3 separate regions of the Homo sapiens genome follow, and all the other regions are reported to be linked to region 2. The links are microRNA targets in miRTarBase. Many come from high-throughput screens and were not tested one by one. Region 2 holds a microRNA gene; each other region holds the end of a gene's coding sequence.
What was found. The annotated mature microRNA hsa-miR-4762-5p reads CCAAAUCUUGAUCAGAAGCCU and lies in region 2 at 3,982-4,002, shown strand. An mRNA with a match to its seed (bases 2 to 7 or 8) in the 3' UTR can be bound and repressed. Matches are read on the target gene's strand: a 7mer-m8 pairs with bases 2 to 8, a 7mer-A1 pairs with bases 2 to 7 and ends in A, and an 8mer does both.

Region 1 (7,121 bases), not on the chromosome of region 2:
CAAGTGTGAAACTTGTACTAGTTTGCTTTATGTCAGCTAAACTAATTGACAAGTTGATAATGGATTATATGTCTTCTGTATCTACAGGCCAGTATTAAAGATTATCTTTAATTGAAAAATCTACAGTATCACTATTTTATGTAACTTCTCACAGATATGTACTATTTGTCATAAAACAAGATTTCTAGGTGCTAGATCTAAAAGAACCCAAAAGGCTTTGGATAAGAGATTCCTTCTTCCAAAAAAAGTTGGAGATCCCTGTTCATAGTCTCAAAGCTATTAAAATGTCAGCATACATGCTGATATTTACTTGTGAGAGAGGGCTCAGTGAACTTTGATTCGCGTTAGTAGCTAGAGATAAACCAAGTATAATGATTATTTGTATTTATTTTTAGTTCAATTTTCCATTTGTTGAGACTTACACTGTTGAGGAAGTAAAAGTTCATCCAAGGAATAATACTGGTGGATATAATCCAGAGGAGGAGGAGGATGAAACTGCTTCAGAAAATTGTTTCCCTTGGAATGTAGATGGTGACTTAATGGAAGTTGCATCAGAGGTCCATATTAGGTAAGTCTATTTATTTCACCGCTTATTGTCAACCAGTAAACATAAATCTAATATTACAACGAAAGCTCTCTTCTCTGAACTATCAAAGCAGGCAGTTGGTTAGTTTTTAAAAAATCAGTAAATCAGGGAAGCATAAAGAGACATGCACAAATTTCAATAAATAAAAAGCAACTTTACATTTATTCAACTGTTATGTAGACCCAAGGCATTTTCTTTGGTTATGCGTGTCTACATTGGCTTTCTAATTTATTGTTGTGCATAAACTACAGATAATGTCTACAACTTCCATTTTGGATTTTTAAAAATGGATCAAGATCTTAAATCTTTTAGTGGAGCCATCTGAATAGTAAAGTGTTAGATTTTTATCCTTCCATCTTAGTTTCCTCTCACTCATAATTACTGTAACATGTTTTGTTCAGTAATTTGCTTTTATTAGGCCTTTACAGAGCATTCAACTTCCCTTGGGAACAATTTTACATAGCAACTGGTATAAACAGGTTTAGGAACCTGCAAACGCATTCTTGGTAGGCATTGTGACACTCAGTGGTTAGAAGAAGCATGCAGGGGTGCCCACTAGACATGGGTGTTCTAGAGGCATAACTGACTGTTTTACAGAGGTAATGGAGAGCATTGGACAATCAAGGAAGTCAGTTAAGGAGGTTTTAGAGCAATTATTGTTGTTGATGATTTATCAATCAGACCTTCTCAGTTTTCTAGATTACAGCTCTGTTGGGAATGCTGTGTTTGTTATCAATTTGTATTTGGCATTGGCATTGTGTACCATACTTATTAGGTGTATGTGAAAAACAACAAAATAAGTTGATGAAATAATGTATTTTCTTTACAGATTGCATCCAAGACTTATCAGTCTTTATGGAGGAAGCATGGAAGAAATGATTCCAAAGTAACATGTAATTGTTTCTAAAAGAAATGTACAAACTAGAATTTTAATATAAAGAAATGTGGCCATGCTTTAAACCTGTGGTCCCCACCCTTTTTGGGACCAGTTTCATGGAAGACAATTTTTCCGTGGATGGGGGAATGGTTTCAGGATGAACTGTTCCACCTCAGATCATCAGGCATTAGATTCTCTTGAGGAACATGGCACTCTAGATCCCTCACATACCAGTTCACCATATGGTTCGCACTTCTATGAGAATCTAATGCTGCTGCTGATCTGACAGGGGGAGGAACTCAGTAATGCTCCATTGCTCTAACCTCCTGCTGTGTGGCCAAACGGATATCCTAATAGAAATTGATGTTACTAACAATTAGCCTCTAGGGCTTTAAAAGTCAAGATGAAATATCAATTCAAATTCTGTTTTTAGATATCAATTCAAATTCTTTTTTTTACAATGTGTTTATTGGACACACAAAAAAACTTTGCAACCATCATAATACATCAATATTTAACCTAGATAATTCTGAAATAATTTGGATTCTTTCATTTTTCAGGATTTGAGCTCATCAATTATGTTAAATTTCCTATATTCTGTTACAAATATAATACAGATTTCATAAGTCTGCCTTGATTCACTGCTCCCTAATCCAGAGCAGTTAAATTTCAAAATCACATAGTTATATAGCCTACCTGCCAAAAAAGAATAACCCATCCCTGTCTTCTTAAAGTGGTAGGGTTTTAAAATTCATGATACAAGTAACAAAGTAAGTTGATAACAAATACTATTTTGAACTGGGCAAAATCTAGCCCAATATGTAATTGTGTTCCCCTTGTATCTGAGAGGCCTGTGTTGGACAACCATAGTACTCTGCTTTCACTGTGCTCAGATAACCTGAAATATATAGTTGTTTCTGAGTAGTTCTGAGTAGGAAAGAACCAAATGTAAATTTCCTTAGAGACCATCCTGGAGAAGACAGTTCTAAATCGGGGCTTGATTTTTCATCTATGATCCTAGATGTTCTCCTGAAAGAATGACTAGCCTTTTTATAACGATACAAAGTTTTTTAAAAATACATAAATGTCATAAAGTTTATTCCTGTGTATACACACTCTGGGTTCAGGAGGTTTTGTGCTTACATTTCACTACTCAAATGCCTTCGCAAATCTCAGAACATTCCTCACCATCACTGCAGGCCTGTGAACAGATAACTTTCATCAATTAGGATGGCTGGCTAGTGGCAGGGACTTCATATAAAGAAATCTTTCCCAGAATTGTTTTTCCACATTGCCTTCTAATTTGATCACTCCCTATAACAGATGTTCAAAATTCGGCCACAGCTCTCTTATGAAGGCAGAGTCAGATAAAATGATATTCTGCAATTATCTAGATCATAAGCATAAAATAAATATTACAAAAATGATTGTATTTAAAGAAATTTTTTAAAATCCAGAAAGTCATTTAAAATAGAACCTCATATAGTATGAACAAACTATAAAAATATTTTACATTTCATGAAAATTTTGCTGTCGTCTCATTTATATTCACTGTATACAAATTGAATCAGTATCTTTCAGCTAAATTTATGAATTTAAATTTATGAATTTTGTTTCTTCGTTTCCATGTAAGGTAACACTTATACTTGTAAAGGGTAACAAAGAATTACATCCAAGGAAATAGTTGTGTGATAGTCAATATTTTACATAGTACATAATACATATGAAGTATAGGCCCCCTAGTCTTTGCACAGCTTTGATTTTAAAGTTATTAGTGAGGTATGGTTTCTGTATTTTCTAAATCAGCGTGTATCAGGTAAAGTGCAACACTCACAATCTTTTGTTTCAGAATATAACAAAAGATTTGAAGATTACTCCTGGGTATGCTTGATAAAGGTGTGTTATAGGAAGAATAGATAGGAAGAATGGTAAATATATACCTACATAAAAACACATGTATATATACAGAAAGAAAGATGGTGAAATCCATAATTATAAAAAAATAATTATCCAGAAGTAATTTCACTAAGCTCAAACCAGTGTACATGTTCAGTCTGAAGTTTGCCAGTTTGGCCTATAATACTATAATATTCATAGTCTGCTGAAAAAAAATGGTTGTTGGAACACAGCCCGTAGGAAATGTATTATAAATAAAGGGCTTTAAAGTGATAATGGTCCACTCGTTAGAAAATTTGGGAACAGCTCTCTAAAAAATTATATTTTTAAAGAACATATTTTGAACAAGTATCAAAGATGTATTTGAAATGAACCTCTGCCCACCCAGTGGGGTTCATTTTACTGAGGCAAGCACATATGGTAAGTAGTATTTCAAGTCTAAGACTTCTCCAGTATAATTTAACTCAGTTATACTTTCATTTCAAGATATCTTCAAGGGCTTACTTTTCTTGAATAAATTGAATGCTTTAGTGTTTCTCTACCCATTTAAAAGCTGAGAGATTATCTTTGGCTGTATTATTACCTTTGCAGTTCTTCTATCTCAAAGAGTAATCATTGCTGAGATTTTCCCCTTGCATGAAGACATAATATGTCACAAGATCATGAGTAAAAGAAGTCCAAACAAAATTCATTTTTTCTTGTAAACAGTGTCTTTTAAATTTCTTTACTACAACCTGAGTCTGTTTTCCATTCTCTCAATTTGAAAGAAGTCCTTAATCATCATTGCTTTTACTGTTGATATAACTCCAACTGTCTCTTCTGTTTTCTTCTTGTAGGATAGATTTGTATTGTCTTTTAAAGAAGCCAGCCTGAAAATAGCATAACATAATCACTAGTGTATAGTTATGAACACTCTCTTATCTACTATACTCATTTCTAATATCTAAGCAGTTAACACCAATATTTCTTAAACTGCATCCCTTGTAACATCAGTCATAAAGGTTTAACAGAGGTAATCAGTAAAAATTAGTGGGGACATACTGGGTTAAAGAAACATTTTTGTTTTTAATGCAGAAATTCTCAGTGATACACACCACATTCTCTCCAAAATTGACATTCCGTGTAATTTGCAATCTTTTCCAAATGGTTTTTTAAAAGGAACGTCTGTCTTTCAAAACAAATTAAGAATGCATATTTTTCTAGAAAGACTTTGGTGTTGAAGAGAAATGTGAGATCAGTACTGAGCAACATAAAAAGTTAACATTCAAATAGTGAAATATTTAAATCTAATAACTTGGAAGTCAAATTGGCTTTGAGAAAATGTCATTTTTAGTAGACTAATGTTGGTAATTGTTAAATGCTTACCTTCCACATAACATATGAGATCAATAGAAGTACAATAAGTCCAAGTAGCAAGCTACTTGAAATAATCACTATGGTGAAATAACGTTTGGGTCTTTGATGATGTAGTCCTTCCAGTAGAACCTACGTGAGTTAAGAAAAATAAAACTCAAAAACCAAAAAAAAAAATCAGTTTAAAACGTTGCTTATATTTCCTTTAAAGCCCTGCCATAATCCCCAGTAGTATTTAGAACTGCCCAGCCCATTTTCTTGCTGGTTCTAATATAATTGCAGGAAACACTGGTAACTGTTTAGCAGAAACAGTGAGTGTAATGGGCTGTATCCATGACTTTTCCTCCAATCTATTCAATTCTCACTGCTGCCCAATTCACCTCTCTGAAAGAACTGCTGTATTGTTCCCTCCTGCCAGTTGTGGAAAATGCCAACTCTCAACCAAGTATTGGGGGCCCTCCATGAGCTGGTCACACTCTACTTTCCCAACTCAGTTACTCAGAAGGAAGTAATTATAGACACCCTTGAAATGTGTTTTCCTATAATTTTAATGTAGCAGTTAAGAGGGTAATCTTACATGCGCAACATTCTCATCCTTGTTTAGTTCAATTACTCTTGGATTTGGCTCTGGAAAACCTGTTGCTCTTATTTCAAACTTGAGTGCTGAAGTCTCATCCTGTTTAATAAAAGAAGGATCACCATAGCCTGGTTTATTTCATAAAGACATAATTTATCAGGATCTTTACCTTCTAGCTAGAGGTTTTCACAATTTACCTTCCCCAATTTATTTCACCACTTAAAATTAACTGCAGTGCCTCCTTTGGTTCCCAAAGTGTGGTCTTGGTATTAATTTATATAGTATCATTTTATTGAAATCCTTTGATTAAACAGCTACCTTGCAAATAACTTGATTTAAATATTAGACTACAGAAAGAGGTAAGTTACCATTTACCATTGTTCTCCACCCCACCACCGCATATTGAATCTATCTTATTTGGGCTTTTTATTTCTTTCTAAATTAAATACATTATAGAATTCAAATATAAAATCAGTGGATGAACTCAGAACTTTACTATCTAAAGCAAGGATTTTATAACGCAGAATCCATGAAGCTTGGGGATCTGTAGAAGGGCTTTATAAATTCTAAGAATCTTTAGGAGATGTTTTCATGTGTGCATTTGCTGAGGGAGATGAGAATATATTTAGTCAGATTCTTAAAGAGGGATATGACCTTTAAAACTATTGTGTAAATGTTATTTAACATTTTAGAGCCAAAAATGACAAGCTTCCTATAGATCTAGAGCAGTGGTTCTCAGCAGGGAGGGTTTTATCACCTAAGGGACAGTCAGGAATGTCTAAAGAAACTGTCAAGTGTCAGAACGTGGGAGGTGGTACTACCAGCAGTGAGCGTATAGAGGCTGAGGATGATACTAAATATCCTACAATGCACAGGACAACCCCCCAAAACAAAATTATCTGGTTCAAAATGCCAATTATGGCCACTGATGGAAAACCTAGACCTAGAGAAAAAGATAAGGCAAACTGCAAAAGGTTAAATGACTTGCTGATGGTTCAATGACTTTGCTTTTAGCACAGTTGAAACTAAAATGGATATTTCTTCTTTGCCTGTCTAGTGTATCTTCCTCTTAAGCACTGTTTGGCAATTTCAAGAATTCCACTTGAACATAACAGCTGCCATTTCCTTTGGCTTCCTATGTTCCATGAACTAAGTGCTTATAAAAATCATCTCATTTATCCATATTGAACAGATGAGAAAGCTGAAAAACAGAACTCCACATAAAACTAGTTTCATCTCAAACTACTCCTCATAAATATACATGCTCCTTTGTAGGAAAAAGTCCAAGATATATTTCATTATTTTTAAAATTTAAATATGTTTTTGTTGTTGAATTTTGATTTTATTTGATTTTATGAAAGCCTTAGTTTTTCTTCTTAGCTATATTTTTAAAATAAAAGGGCTTCAATAAAATTCATCATCCCTTCATGCTAAAAACTCTCAATAAACTAGGTGTTGATGGAACATATCTCAATAAGAGCTATTTATGACAAACCCATAGCCAATATCATACTGAATGGGCAAAAACTGGAAGCATTCCCTTTGAAAACCGTCACAAGACAAGGATGCCCTCTCTCACCACTCCTATTCAACACAGTATTGGAAGTTCTGGCCAGGGCAATCAGGCAAGAGAAAGCAACAAAGGGTATTCAAATAGGAAGAGAGGAAGTCAAATTGTTTGCAGGTGACATGATTGTATATTTAGAAAACTCCATGGTCTCAGCCCCAAAACTCCTTAAGCTTATAAGCAACTTCAGCAAAGTCTCAGGATACAAAAATCAATGTGCAAAAGTCACAAGCATTCGTATACAATAATAGACAAGCAGAGAGCC
Region 2 (7,121 bases):
AATATGTATGCTTTAATCATTTGAGAAAAATGAACTATTGCTTGAAAAGAAAAGAGCTAAATATGTTGAACTTTTCCCAGTCCAGCTGAAACTGCCCTTCAGAGTTTACTGTGGGGTGGGGATGGGGGTTGTGATTGTCCTTTTCAGGTTGAACTTTTTGTATTATTGTACATCTTATGTTACAAATCCTTCTACAAGCTGCACTTAGCTCATATTACTCTCAGACATTGAATAATTGGTTTAATGTGAGACTACTTTCTGGGAATGATTCATTGGTATTTATTTGACATGTTTTAGTGATAATATTGAATATATCCACTGGAAAAATCCAAGAGGAACCTTTAAATGAAATCATTTCCATGGCAGAGTTGGGGGCAAGAGAGGGAGTTGGAGTTGATTTCTCATCGTGTGAATCCCACTCCATCAGCACGTGGAAACTGAGGAAGAGGGAAGGAGTGGAGAAGAACCAGACGAGAGACACGGTTCCAGATGCTTTCCCAAGTGGCTGTGCCCTCCTCCTATTTGCGGAGGAATGGCTTTGGTCTGCACCTGCAGCTCTGGACGGACTGCCTGGGGCTGGGGCTGTGGAGGCGGACGACTGGGGAGTCTGATGGGGAGGTGGGTGGCGGGGGTGTTGACAGGAAAAATCCGACTGGCGGCCTTGGAGCAGTTCGAAGAGAGGGCGTGTCCTTTGCCTGTTGGAATTCCAACCCTGGCGACTTTCAGCTACACCCTCCTCCCTCCCCTAGCCCCACACAAAACAAAAATGCCTCAGAGCTTCAGTGTAACTGGAGCAATACCAGCTGATTCTAACAGTGTGGCCCAGCAGCGCCTGCTGGCTGGGAGCAGGGACAGAAAATGCCTGAGGCTCCGAGGTGGGAGCCCAGGCTGGGATTCAGGATTTCGCTGCTCCCCGTTCAAGGCCTCTGGAGAATGTTCCAAAGGGAGGTGTGGATGTTTCATTCAGTACTTTGGAGGGAGAAAGAAATGGGTTCTTTCTCTGTATTCTCTAAGATAGATTTGTTCTTAATCTTGAAAAATCATTTCTAGCCATTTTAGAAAAAAAAAAACATTAGTACAGTATTAGTAAATATGGATGGGATAAAATTTTTTTTACATACACATAGGATTCAATACATTTTTCATATGCTGACCTTATAAGTCATATTGTTTTGAAATTATATTTATTAAAAATGTGATTAGAGTTATATTCATTCATGTTTGATTCTCTTTTAAGAATTATTCTCTATTAGTACTTTTCTTACATGATTCAACTTGGACTTATTAGAGAAATAAACTCTGGCACACTTTCTCCAGTCATATTCGTTGAGCCTGTATTTATAAAATTGGCATTTATTGGACCTCTGCTGTGGATACTATTTACTTCTTTTGAAATTTGTAAAAGAAGAAAAAAAGTTGAGCTTTTGTGATGACACACAAATTCAAACTAAATTTGATGCTTCCAAAGTATATGGCAGAGACGGATGCAACTATTCGTTACCAGAACAGTGGCGTCAGGAAGCCCCGTGCAGTGGGTAGGGGACACCTGGTGCTGCCTCCACACCCTGCCCCTGCCAGCCCCTGTTGTCCTGAGCTTCCGCAGCTCCCGCCTGACGTTTGGCTCAGAGTCGTCCACACTGCTCGTGTCCCTCGGCTGTGGAGCAGGGCCACAGTCTCCCTGCAGGGTTGTTTGGAGTTAGCTGAGCCAGCGTGTGGAAAGCATAGGTACTTGACAGACCACCAGTGCCTCCATGGAGCACCACCATTGTTAACTGCAGGCTTCTCTAGCCATTTAGAATACATATGAAGACTCAGAAAAACCAGTTTTACTTTTAGGAAATTACATATTCATGGCTTGAGCTATAGCCACTGACTTTGTGCTTGGAACAAAATACATAATTCTTTTTGGTTCAAAAGATTAGATTCAAATTATTGGTCATCAGAAACTGAAGTTTCCTAAGGCATATCACACGTAATTCAAGGTTGCTTTGATGTGTTATTCTGCTAATCCACAACCATGGAAGTTCCTGGTTAGTGCAATGTTTCATGCTCTGACAGCTATCTTTAAGATGTTGTTTTTGGGTTGCCAGGTGTTCATTTAAACACACTGGCCATGTGTTTGCACACGCACATGTGCATACACATAGCCACTGCGGAGCGCCAGGAGCTGTAACTGAACGTGGACTTGATAGAGCAGTATGCGATGTTTTTGTCTTCAGGGCAAGCTCTTGATGCATAGCTTCATGTGACATCTCGTTTATAACAGCCTGAGGCATCAGTAATCTTTATAGCAAGAATTCTAGTGCTGTGTTATGCATACCAAGCTTACCGTTTATTCTGCCCAGTAAATACATGGCTTTTATGGAGTCATAAATCATGACAGTAGGAGTCATACCTCTCCAAAAAAGAAGAGATTTAAATCTTTAGAGTTAACAAGATTTAATGTAATTTAGACATTATTCTTACTTAGAAGTACCATTCTTATTTAAAGGCAGTATATCTCATATCTTTAAAGATAACTTTAGAAACTTACTGCCAGAGAAACAAATATTGATTAAGAGCACACTGTGTGCCAAGCATTATGCGAGGTGCTGGAGAGAAGGAAGGGGAAGAAAAGGTCCTCACCCTCAAGTAACTTGAAGCTTAGAGGGACAATGATAAATAGTAAAAGATTCTAGAGTCCGGGCATGGTGGTTCACACCTGTAATCCCAACACTTTGGGAGGCTGAGGTGGGCGGATCACCTGAGGTCAGGAGTTCAAGACCAGCCTGGCTAACATGGTGAAACCCTGTCTCTACTAAAAATACAAAAAGTAGCCGGGCGTGGTGGCGCATGCCTGTAATCCCAGCTACTCGGGAGGCTGAGGCGGGAGAATCACCTGAACTCGGGAGGCAGAGGTTGCAGTGAGCCGAGATAGCATCACTGCACTCCAGCCTGGGCAGAGCAAGACTCCGTGTCAAACAAACAAACAAAAAAGATTCTAGAGCAGTCTGATCAGGGTGAGGGTTCCGTACTCTTCTTGTGCCATGAAGCAGGAGGAAAGGCCTCCTGAGGGAGCTGAGGCTGCACGAGGATGAGCAAGGTTTCATAATGTCCTCCAGAGGCCAGTTTACCAAGCTGCATCAGCTCCTCCCTCCCAGCCACCCTGCCCTTCATAAAGCTCTAGTTTTGTAGGGGATGGGGTGGGATGGGGTCACACCTCAGCTGCCGGCATGAGCTAAGGGACCATATAACAGTCAGCACTGTCCATCGCTTGCTTCTCTCTCTTTCTAATTTACATACAGCTAAACACAGATTTTTAATGAATGGCTGATAAGTTTTGACAGATGTCTGCACCTGTGTAATTATCACCCCAGTCAAGGTACAGAGAGCACCTCTATCCCCTCAGAAAGTTTTTTCCATGCTGGCTGTTGTGTGCCAGTGTGCCAGGAGAGCATGGGGCAGGGGAATGATGGCCCTAAGAAAGGAAGGAGGAACAGGGGGAATCTTGAATTACATTCTTTCCCCACGTGGAGATAGATTTGTGCTAATTCCACAACGTGGAACATCCTCCTTCGTTTGCTTAGACTTCCCTGGGAGCAGTAGCCCATGTACTGGTGGCCTAGCTCAACTGTGGCTTGGTTCTGGGCCTGTAAAGCCATCTTTCCCACCTACAGATGACATTCCCTATCTTCATCATGTGCTTTTAGTCAGGTTTCCTGCGGGCCAGATGCATCTGAGAGTGTGCCCTCATTAATATGGGACTCTGTGTATGTCCAGCACATGTGGGGTTTATTCACGTACCAGTGATTATTATTCAACATCGTTCCCTTTAGTGCAGCAAGCACTTTCTGAGTGCTTACCATGTGCCACTTTCTGTGAACCTCTGCAGTTCAACAGTGGAGTCAGAGGCAGTCCTTGTTCTCAAGTAGCTCATGATCTACTGTGGGAGACAGATGGCTAGATGATAGGGTGTAGTCATATCCCATTATTTCTGATACCCCAAATCTTGATCAGAAGCCTTGATCAGAAGCTAGGAAGGCTTCTGATCAAGATTTGTGGTGTCAAGAATAACAACGATTACAGCAATAGTAGTTGCTTATTGAGTGTGTCCTGTGTCCTAGGCACAGTTCTGAGTATTCGTCTCTTACCTCATTTAATGATGATACCTCTCCCATGTTGCAGATGAGGAGACTGAGGGCCAGAATGGTTCAGTAGTGTACCCAAGGCCACACAGCTGTTAAGTGGCATGAGAAAGAAAGAAACTTTCATTTTAAGCCTCTTAGATTTTTGTGGATTGTTTGTTACTGCAGCACGAACCAGCCCATCCTCACTGATAAGAGCCCCAGTGTGCGGAGTGGATTCCTGAGCCAGTTAAAAGGTTGCTACAGCAGTGGAGGCCTGGTTGGAGGGTGGTGATAAGCCTGGAAATAAAAGGACATATGTGAGAGACAGTAATTTGATAAAGAGTAATGAAAGAGGAAGCTTTCTTTCAGGTAGCTTATTCTGTTTCATTATTGTTGTTTTCCTTTTGGGAAAGAAGTTGAATTTTCATTGTTGGCTTATGTTTTCAAGGGTGACCTCAGTATTTTATTTTATTTTATTTTTTTGAGACGGAGTCTTGCTCTGTCGCCAGGTTGGAATGCAGTGGCGTGATTTCGGCTCACTGCAACCTCCACCTCCCAGGTTCAGGCGATTCCCCAGCCTCAGCCTCCCAAGTAGCTGGGACTTTAATGTTTTTATATTGGTGATTTTGAGCAGAGACTGTATTACCATCTAAAACACTACAAGCCTAGCATGTAAGCTCCATGTCTGTTTGCTCCTCATTCTCTCCAGGGCCCCTGGCACAGTTCCGGGCCCACAGTGAGTGCTCTGTAAACTTTTAGGGATGAACAAATGAATATTTTTAAATCTGTTCATTGTTTTCACAGTTAAACTTTTCTAAGCACTTATGTAATACTGTGTTTACTTAATTTTCATTTCTCACCAACCTTTATGGAAGACTAGGTGATAACTGGTTAAATTGTAATACAGTATCATAGGTATAATCTCGAAAAGGTAAAAATCAAATGTAACGAAGCATTATAATCCAGTGACTGGAACATTTTATGCAAGCCTTTGCTCTTTATTTATCTATTTTTTTATCATACACTTCTTCCCAGTTTTTGCTTAGTCCTTGTTAGCAGTTACATTAAAATCTGTTTTAAGTTCCACCTCAGGGAATATCAAAAGTTGGTTACTTTTCTAAATGGGCCTTTAATTAAAATTTTAAAAAATTAGACCATTGTGTTAGATTTTTTAAAATGTTGGCTAAAACAGAAAAGGTTGATTTCAGTGCAGTTGGGCTGAAACTATACTTAAATAGATTAAAGTATAATCTGGCTTTTAAAAAAAACACATCTGACTGGGATGAAGTAGTTGTGGTCTTAACTGAAGCAGGTGAATGGACCATATTCGCCTTTAAGAGCCTTCTGACTCCCAGGTTTTCTGATTTTTAAAAACTTCCTATTTAGTCATATGTTTTTACTTCACTTTATGGTTTAAGTGAGCCAACCAACAAAAGTTACTCATAAAAGATAGTATTTTACTTGTAACAATTGCAGAAAAAGTGAAAAGCTTGACATTACAGGTAGAAAGGAAGTCAGTCTCTGTCCCCTGTGCGTTTCCGAGACTGTGTTTCTATTTATTTGCCCTTTGTCTGTTTCCCCTGACCAGCGTGCGTTTCTTTCTGGAGGCGCAGGGACCTCGGCTTATTTTTCTCTGTCTTTGCATTGCTTGACAGAGGGCCTGACCCAGGGTAGGCACTCCCGCTTCATGACTACATCTCATTTTTTATTTATCTTTGTTATGATAGATAGCAGATAAAGCAGTTGATTTCAGTCAGAAGCAGACCACAGCAGCAGGATTCTTTCCACGGTGCATGTTCTGGCTGAGTGTTGGTGGGCTCCACCCTAGCCGAACCTGTGTCTGCACACCTGTTGTGTCTTCCTGGGAGGCTCCCAGGCATGCTCCTGTCTGGCCAGGGTGCTTCCTCCTCGCTCTCCAGCTGGCTGAAGGGAAGCTGGGCAAGAGTGTATGTGTTTAGGCCACAGGGAGAGCACAGACTCCCAGAGCATGAACCAAGGGGCTTCCAGGCCTCAGGGACTGCCTCCTGGTCCCCCAGAGGCCACCTCACTCTTACTCCTGTCTCCAGGCTGGTGACCTCACATGGCCCCAGCCATCTCTCCACATCCTCCCCTCCCTGCTGTGGAGCCCCCACTGACAGATGCCTTCCCCCTGTGTTTTGGCTCCAAATTCCAAGTGAGAGTAATTGCGTGGCTTCCCTTGGGTCTGTCTCCATCCCTGTTGTAGTCCCTCACAGCCCAGACTGTGGACTGCAGAGGCATCACCTAGGGGCTTGTCTGAGATGCAGAGTCTCAGGCTCTACCCCAGCATCCGGAATCAGACCATCCTCAGGGGATTGGAATGCACAGAAGCATTTAAGAAGCGCTTTGTAAAGCCATGGCCTCTCCTGCGCAAAGAACTGCGTGGTCCCTTTTCCTGGAGTAGGAGGCTGTGGCTACAGCATTTTCATCTGGAAGGAGGCCTAGGAAATGATGTTTCTGTGGCCTTCCTACCCCCTCTCCCTCACCCTGGTGACTCTCAGTTGGGGAGGGCTGCCGGGCAGTGTTCTGGGGGCAGGGAGGTGGTGGGAGAATCTGGAGAGCTGGAGAGAGTGAGGTGGTGAGGTGGGCCTGGCGTGTTCAAGGCAGAGAAGGAAGGAACGAGGGAACTGGCTGGAGAGACTTGGAGGGCTCCTCAGAGATGAGGCTGAGTGGGAGTGAAGGTTTCGTCAAGGTTACGAAAGGCCTTTGAGTTCAAGCTGAGGCCTTTGGACTTGGCCCCTCGCTCGCTTTGCCAGGAGACAGGCGGCTCCTTGCCTGAGCCTCTGTGCTTGCGCTCCTCTCCCCAGCCCCAGGTCTGCAGAGTGTGTGGCTGCTGCACCCTCAGGTGTTTGCTCATCTCCTCACAGGTCTTTCCTGCCCCCTACCTGTTAAAAGTCGGACCCCACCACGCCCCCCACCTCTCTGTCCCTGCTCTTTGGGCCCTTCCTTTTCCCCAGGTTGGGCTCTTGCCTTTTTCTCTGTTCCTTCACTGCCACA
Region 3 (7,121 bases), not on the chromosome of region 2:
GAAACATAGACTCTTCCTGGTTCTTGAACCTGCTGGCATTTGGACTAGAACTACACTTTTGGTTCTTCTGGGTCTCTAGCTGGCTGACTGCTGATCTTGGGACTTGTCAGTCTCCATAATTACATGACCTGATTCCTTTTATTCAGTTTCATATAAGGAATACATATGTATACATGTTCTGTTTGTTCCATTGGTTCTATTTTTCTGGGAGAACCTTAATATACCAGGTCTTTTAATTTGATCATTTTGATCTTTTGATCTTTCCCTGATACTGACACCTCCAGGGCACAGTTACCTGTGTAAAAAATTAGAGGCAGTGCTCTTCGAAAATCAACTTTATCATTTCTCAAGCTCTGCTTAAGTTGGTCAGCAAAATGCCAGGACTGGATTAAGGCATCAGAATAAAATTCCCTTAAGGTGTTGCCCAGAAGATCTCATCTAGTTCCAGGGCTCTGCTGATGTCCAGTGCCCTTGATGGAAGTCTCCATTTCTGTCTCTGCCTTATTCTGAAAGTCTTCTAAAGAGAAAGGGTAGGGTAAGAGCCAAGGCAACACTTTTCAGCCCTTCCAGGCTGAAGCATTAGACTCACACGAAGGGACTTAGTGAGCCTAGTGTATGTGTCTTGATCAGATTTCTTCCCTGCCCCCTTAAAAATGCAATGAAGAGAATTCAAATGCCATGAGACTCTTTAAGAGTCTGGAAGGTGGAATAAATGGTCCTTCCAGCACTAGCAAAGAATAATGGGAACAAGAAAAAGGCAATCTTCAGCTTCTCGTCTCCTTTTTCTATATCCTGCATGTAACAACTTCTTAGTTGTTCTCCCTCCCTAAAATTGCACAGGCCTCTTCACGGCTCAACTTTCAGTTTGGCAAAATTGTTAAGCCTGTGCTACGTGTCAGGGACTGTGCTAGATGCTGGTGATGTAGCAGTGAGCTAGACCCACAGGGTGCTTTTCCTCATGAAGTTTTACAGTCAGGGGAAAAAAGACATGAAGTAAAGGGTAATAATGATTATTATGACAGTGGAAATGTCAAGGTAAAAGGGCAGGGAAGGCCGGGTGCGTGGCTCATGCCTGTAATCCCAACACTTTAGGAGGCCAAGGTGGGTGGATCGCCTAAGGTCAGGAGTTCAAGACCAGCCTGGTCAACATGATGAAACCCCCTCTCTACTAAAAATACAAAAATAAGCCAGGTGTGGTGGTGGGCACCTGTAATCCCAGCTACTCGGGAGGCTGAGGCGGGAGAATCACTTGAACCTGGGAGGCAGAGGTTGCAGTGAGCCGAGATCACACCATTGCACTCCAGGCTGGGCAACAGTGAGACTATGTCTTGGGGGGGAAAAAAAGGGTTGGGGGGCAGGGAAAACATTCCCAGCAGAAGACATAGCACATAGGAAGGCTCAGAGCTTGGACACAATGTAGAGTACAAGATGGAAAGTGGTGTGGTGGGAGGTTGGTAGAAGCCTAAACGTGCACGGTCTTCTAGACCTGCTCGGTCCACTGCAGCAGCCACCTGTGGCTACAGAGCACTTGGAATGAGGCTAGTCCCTACTGAGACTAGACTAGATTTCAAAGATTACCACGAACATTAAATTAAATGTTTTTTAAATACAAATTTTAAATATAAACTTTTTTTTTTACTTTTTTGATGCGGCTACTAGAAAATTTCAAATTACATATGGCTCACATTATATTTCTATTAGACAGTACTGTTCTAGACCATGTTATAAAACCTAGACTTGACTCTGAGAGCATTGGGAGATTTCTGAAGTGTTTTAAACAGAAAAGTGACATTATCAGGTTTGCATTTTCAAAAGACTCTGTTGTGAGGAGACTGGATAGTAAGAAGACAGGACAGAGGCAGGGAGGCCAGTTAGGGGTGGCTGCACTGGCTTGAGTGAGAGATGCTGGATTAGACAGGGTGGCAGCAACGCAGGTAGAAAACACTTTAAAAAAGTAGTTACTAATACCAAACAGCTCTCGTTCCAGTGAGAAATGATAGGTTGAACCATATAAAATTTTCATCTTCATTTATTAAAAGTGGTTGAATACTGAAAGAGCTAACAAGGGCCAAAGGTGGGACAAATGAGTCACAAAATAATTAAGTATAGTGTTACAACTCAAAGAATGAGATAAATATTCAAGTCCATGCTGACATTTAAAAAAACTGAATAAATGGAGAAGAAACAACTCTTACAGAATTCCAACTTAATAAATAATGAGGAAATTAGCATATCACAGTAATAATTGCCCCAGGCAACATTTCCATAAGGACACTAAAATAAATGGGGAAAAGTGTAAGCAGAAACAGGTTATTTGCATAATCTTAAAGTATGTCCCTCTACATATTTAATAATTATAAGTAGAAAAATGGTAAATTTACAGTGGAAAATTCCAACAGATATCACCCTAGCCAAAGTGAGTGAGGTTAGCAGCATCAGGAGTGCATATGGACACCATGTTTTCGTAGGTAAGATGTGCTGAGAAGGGTATTATCACTCTGGGGCATCTTTCCCACATACCCCATAGCCTCAATCTAATCATGAATAAACATCAGACAAACCCACATTAAGGGACATTCTGCAAAATAACTGACAAGTAATGTTCAAATGACAGGACTGAGGAACTACTACAGATTGGAGGAGGCTGCAGAGACATGACAACTAAATGCAATTTGAGATCCTGGATTAGGTCCTGTAATAGGAAAAAGTAGAAAAGCTAGTAAAAAATTAAGCTAGTAAAAAGGTGTTTCTGCTTCAACTTTTCTCCATTTTAGTATCCTTATGAAAACTTAATAGTATTGTACCAAGTTTAACTTATTAATTTTGGGCGCCTGTAATCCCAGCTACTTGGGAAGGCTGAGGCAGGAGAATCACTTGAACCCAGGAGGCAGAGTTTGCAGAGAGCTGAGATCATGCCACTGCACTCCAGCCTGGGCAACAGAGTGAGACTCTGTCTAAAAAAAAAAAAATTAGATCCTGCTTCAACGTTCAACTCAAAAACAGTAACTCTATTTACAAGATTCCTAAGGAAAGATCTCAGATACCAACTAGGACTGCAAAGAATACGGCCAACGGGTGGCATAGTTTCATGGGCCACATCATTACAAGGGACTGAGCATTGGGGGAGGCAGAGAATATTTCAGTCATCTTCCTCCATTCCCACTTCTGGACACCTGCCACCATGAAAAGCTCTAAAGCAAGAGGATGGTCCAGGTGCCCAACACCAAAGCTACACCAGAGGCCAGAATGGCAAAGCCTCTCTCCAGCAGCTATGTCATACTCATGTGGTATTAAGTTTCCAAGAAAAGTAGCAACAGGTGTACAGATGTCCTGAGAAACCTGTCCTACAACTGCTGCCAAGTGAGTACACGGTCCCTTACCATGGTGTTTATTCAACAATGAGGCAGACTCTAGGTCACTGGTTAAGTTGGGCATTGTGGAAGATGTTCTCCTGACCACAAGGGGATTTCAGTGCAAGCTAAAATAGTAATCTACAAAATTATACTCTATACACCAAGTAGCATTTACAGCCCTTAGTTCCTTCCACTGATGAGTGACTAACAAGTGTTTCTCTTCAGAGGTGGATTACTTTTCATGAGGCTTAAGTACCAATATGTTTATTGCATTTAAGGTATCACTTAATTGTCTAACTTCTAGAGGTAAGCAATTTACTCGCTATTTAATAAGTCAGCCTTCTTTTCATTTGCCACGGCAGTTTCATTGCTTGTAATTATTCACTGTGGTGTTCCCTTTAACTTGAATACTACTTAACAAGATTTCGTTAATATCAAAATATTGTTAAATATCAAAATATTCAAGAATGCTTAAAAATTAGCACTTTGGGAGGCCAAGATGGGCGGATCACTTGAGGTCAGGAGTTTGAGACCAGCCTGACCAACACGGCGAAACCCCGTCTCTACTAATATAAAAATTAGCCGGGCATGGTGGTGCACACCTGTAATCCCAGCTACTCTGGAGGCTGAGGTAGGAGAATCACTTGAATCTGGGAGGTGGAGGTTGTAGTGAGCTGAGATCATGCCACTGCACTCCAGCCTGGGTGACAGAGTGAAACTGTGTCTTGAAAAATAAAAAACAATGTTTAAAAATTAAATGTGTTTTCTTAGAACTGGCTGGTTCACATATTACCTCACCAAATAGATATTTGGCCTCACTTTGTATACTCTCTAAATGGATTCATGTTAAAGACATACTCCTACAGTTCTAAATTTGAATGAGACCCTTAGAGAAATTCAGACACTAAGTCCTTGGATAATATAAGTGATCAATGTCAAGGTGAGAGTTGAGAATGGTTTTTAAGAAATGCAATGACCATTCCATATACCAAAGGGAATTCTTTATTGTAAACAAGATATAAAGTACAACAAAAGAAATATTGTGCAAATTGTAAGTCACAAGGATTTTTTTTAATTAAAACTTTTGTTTTCCAAGGGTCCAAGTTTTGATGTCAGAAATCTACACCCAATATACAAAAACAATGTTAAATGGGAAGATATAGTGACATTTTTCACTATATATTTTAAGCAATGTACTTTTGTTTTGCCACTGTGTATATCATCCACTATATAACAGAATAAAAGAGAAATACTGTTAACAAAAGTGAATGTTCTAATAATTTTTCTACCCAACTACCTCCACATCCCCAAAAAACGCCTATAAATTAACAGGACAACATCAACATTTGTCCACCTGTGAATAATGGTCACTAATTTTCTAATTCAATAAAGCACACATTATATCCTCATAACATAAAGGTACTTTACTGATGACATAAGCCATCTTTTTCAAGAAGTTATCTAAGATTCTTAATATCCCTTCTTTACAATATATATTTCATCTTCAGTTTTTTTTCTAAACAAAGTGCAGTGTATCTTAGAGTCTACAGAAAACACATTGGTATACAATTTTCAAATCTACACAAGAAACTGCAGGCAAACTAAAGTTCAAAGCATAATGAAATGCCTAGATACAGTCATTTGTTAAACTTTCAAAACAAAAATGCAAAAACAAATTGTAGCTATGCTTCAAAGCAATTAAATTAAGGAGGATTCCAATTCTTTGGGCCCTCTTAGCAATATACAGTCGTTCAATTCCAAATATTCACAATAGTGTAAAAATGATAGTTCTAGATATATTTAATCACTACATCCACGATGTTGACTGGAAAGACTAGGAATAATAAAGAAGATAACTCTAGAAAAAGATGACAATATTTGTAATAATACAAACTCATTTTACATCTCCATGTCTGTACCGTAATGTTTATTTCCTTCCAGCCTCCATATTCTTGAAACCAGTGCTTTAGAAGAATCACATTGAAAAGTTGGTCTCAAGTATAAACAGCAAAAGTAAAGTAACAAATATGCACACAGATTCAAAATCTGTGCTACCTGTGTTGACCTCATCTGAAACCTTCAAAAAATATTCAAAGGAATAAAAGCTTTCTCATCTCTCTTATGTGATAAGAAATGAAACCTGCCTTTCTGTGACCTGCCTGTGGCCGAAGCCCTTTTAGTCACCTAACCCAGGCGGGGCCTTCGTGCCAGGCTGTGGGGCTTCTGCTTTAAGCCCACGTTGTGGGGCCACAGACTTGCAGTGGAAGCATTTTTACATCACCACTGGCTCCCGCTGAGACCAAAGTTAGTTCTGACTCTTCACTTTCCGGTCTGTCACTGTGTGGGAGCAGGGGTTGGAGGTAGAGCAATGTCATTTAGCTTGCTCACTTCCATCTGCCAGTTTGGTAGCTTCTTGGCTGATAGATGGCGCCGGGCATGCTTGGTCAAATGGTCACTCCTCATGAACCGCCGGTCACACATGGGGCACGCAAATTTCTTCTCACCCGTGTGGGTTCGCCTGTGTCTGGACAGTTCATCAGAACGGGCAAACCTCCTTTCACAACCTTTCCAGCTACAGCTGAAAGGCTTTTCTCCTAAAACAAAGACATACAAATCATTATTATGCATAAGATTGCCGTAAATTATATGTTCAATTCTGTCTAAAAGTATATGAGAAGATACATTTTAAATAATAAAAGCTAATAAATCAAACTGTCAAATGAATATGAGATATGTATTGCTCCAATTTCAACTTGTCACTTGATCACATTTACAAAACTCTTCCCCACATGAAATAAGGCAGCCGGGTGGAGTAGTAGGCACCTGTAGTCCCAACTACTCAGAAGGCTGGGGCAGGAGGATAGCTTGAGCCCAGAAGTTTGAGACCAGTTTGGGCAACAGAGCAGTTTTTTTTCATCCCTTAAAAAAAGCCAAAAATGAAAAGACTTCCTGACTTTAACTATGATTCAAAGGCTTTAAAGATACCTTATTAAAGTAACTACTCAGACATCTACAGAATCATCATTTGAGAGACTGAAACAAAAGCACATCAATAAAGTATTTACATACTTATTTTTAAATTATTTGTAGAGATGAGGTCTCAGTATGTTGCACAGGCTGGTTTTGAACTCCTATGCTCAAACAATCCTCCCACCTTGGTCTCCTAAAGTGCAAGGATTATGGCACTCGTGAGCGGCCTCCAATACAGCCTTTTGGAGGACCTTGCACTGGTAAATACCATCCTCTAAACTAGCTAAAGGCAAGTTATTCCTTATCATCCTGGGTTTAAATGTGTGATCACAGCCAAAATCTCTTCATTTAAACACTAAAGATATAAGAAGTGGCTGGTACCTGTGTGCGTCCTCGTGTGGGCCTTCAGATGGGAACTTTTAAAGTATGTCTTGCCACATCCTGGGTGGCTACAGATGTGACTCCTTATCCTTGATGAATCAATCTGAGGAGTGACTTTTGCTGCTGAAGGGGAAAACCCAGGAGCAGGGGCAATGGGAGAGAGTCTGGTGCCATTCGGGCTCACCACCGGAGGCTTTGAACTCTGCACAACGGGCTGGGGTACCACAAACATGACAGCGCCTTTGGGGACTTGTGTGCCCATGAACACAACAGGGGGGCAAACGGCTGGTGGCTGGCTGGGAGGAGTGCTGGGAACGACTGTTGTCACAACAGGGTTGTTGGCAGGAAGGGGAACCATCTGGCAGATGACCGGCATAGGTGGCACTCCCCCTGCAGATACTGCAGGTGGAGAGACCA

Region 1: miRTarBase lists CERKL as a target of hsa-miR-4762-5p. Seed matches in the 3' UTR shown: 7mer-A1 at 2,024-2,030.
Region 3: the mRNA of KLF10 is a reported target of hsa-miR-4762-5p. Seed matches in the 3' UTR shown: 8mer at 4,926-4,933.

Annotation. Positions count from the first base shown.
Region 1 is chr2:181,532,539-181,539,659 of GRCh38, reverse strand. It overlaps CERKL (CERK like autophagy regulator), which reads left to right. Exons shown (of 13, transcript NM_201548.5): 12 at 396-568; 13 at 1,416-2,988. The coding sequence ends at 1,476. ITGA4 (integrin subunit alpha 4) reads right to left here. Exons shown (of 28, transcript NM_000885.6): 26 at 5,290-5,388; 27 at 4,725-4,844; 28 at 720-4,228. The coding sequence ends at 4,133. Among named protein-coding and RNA genes, the nearest start is that of ITGA4, 79 kb to the right of the region's middle.
Region 2 is chr22:45,756,551-45,763,671 of GRCh38, forward strand. It overlaps MIR4762 (microRNA 4762), which reads left to right and starts at 3,974; the gene lies at 3,974-4,048. The region is part of intron 9 of ATXN10 (ataxin 10); the gene reads left to right. RefSeq lists enhancers at 1,117-2,115, 6,101-6,694 and a silencer at 6,259-6,553.
Region 3 is chr8:102,644,445-102,651,565 of GRCh38, forward strand. It overlaps KLF10 (KLF transcription factor 10), which reads right to left. Exons shown (of 4, transcript NM_005655.4): 3 at 6,705-7,121; 4 at 4,340-5,947. The coding sequence ends at 5,688. Among named protein-coding and RNA genes, the nearest start is that of KLF10, 7.7 kb to the right of the region's middle.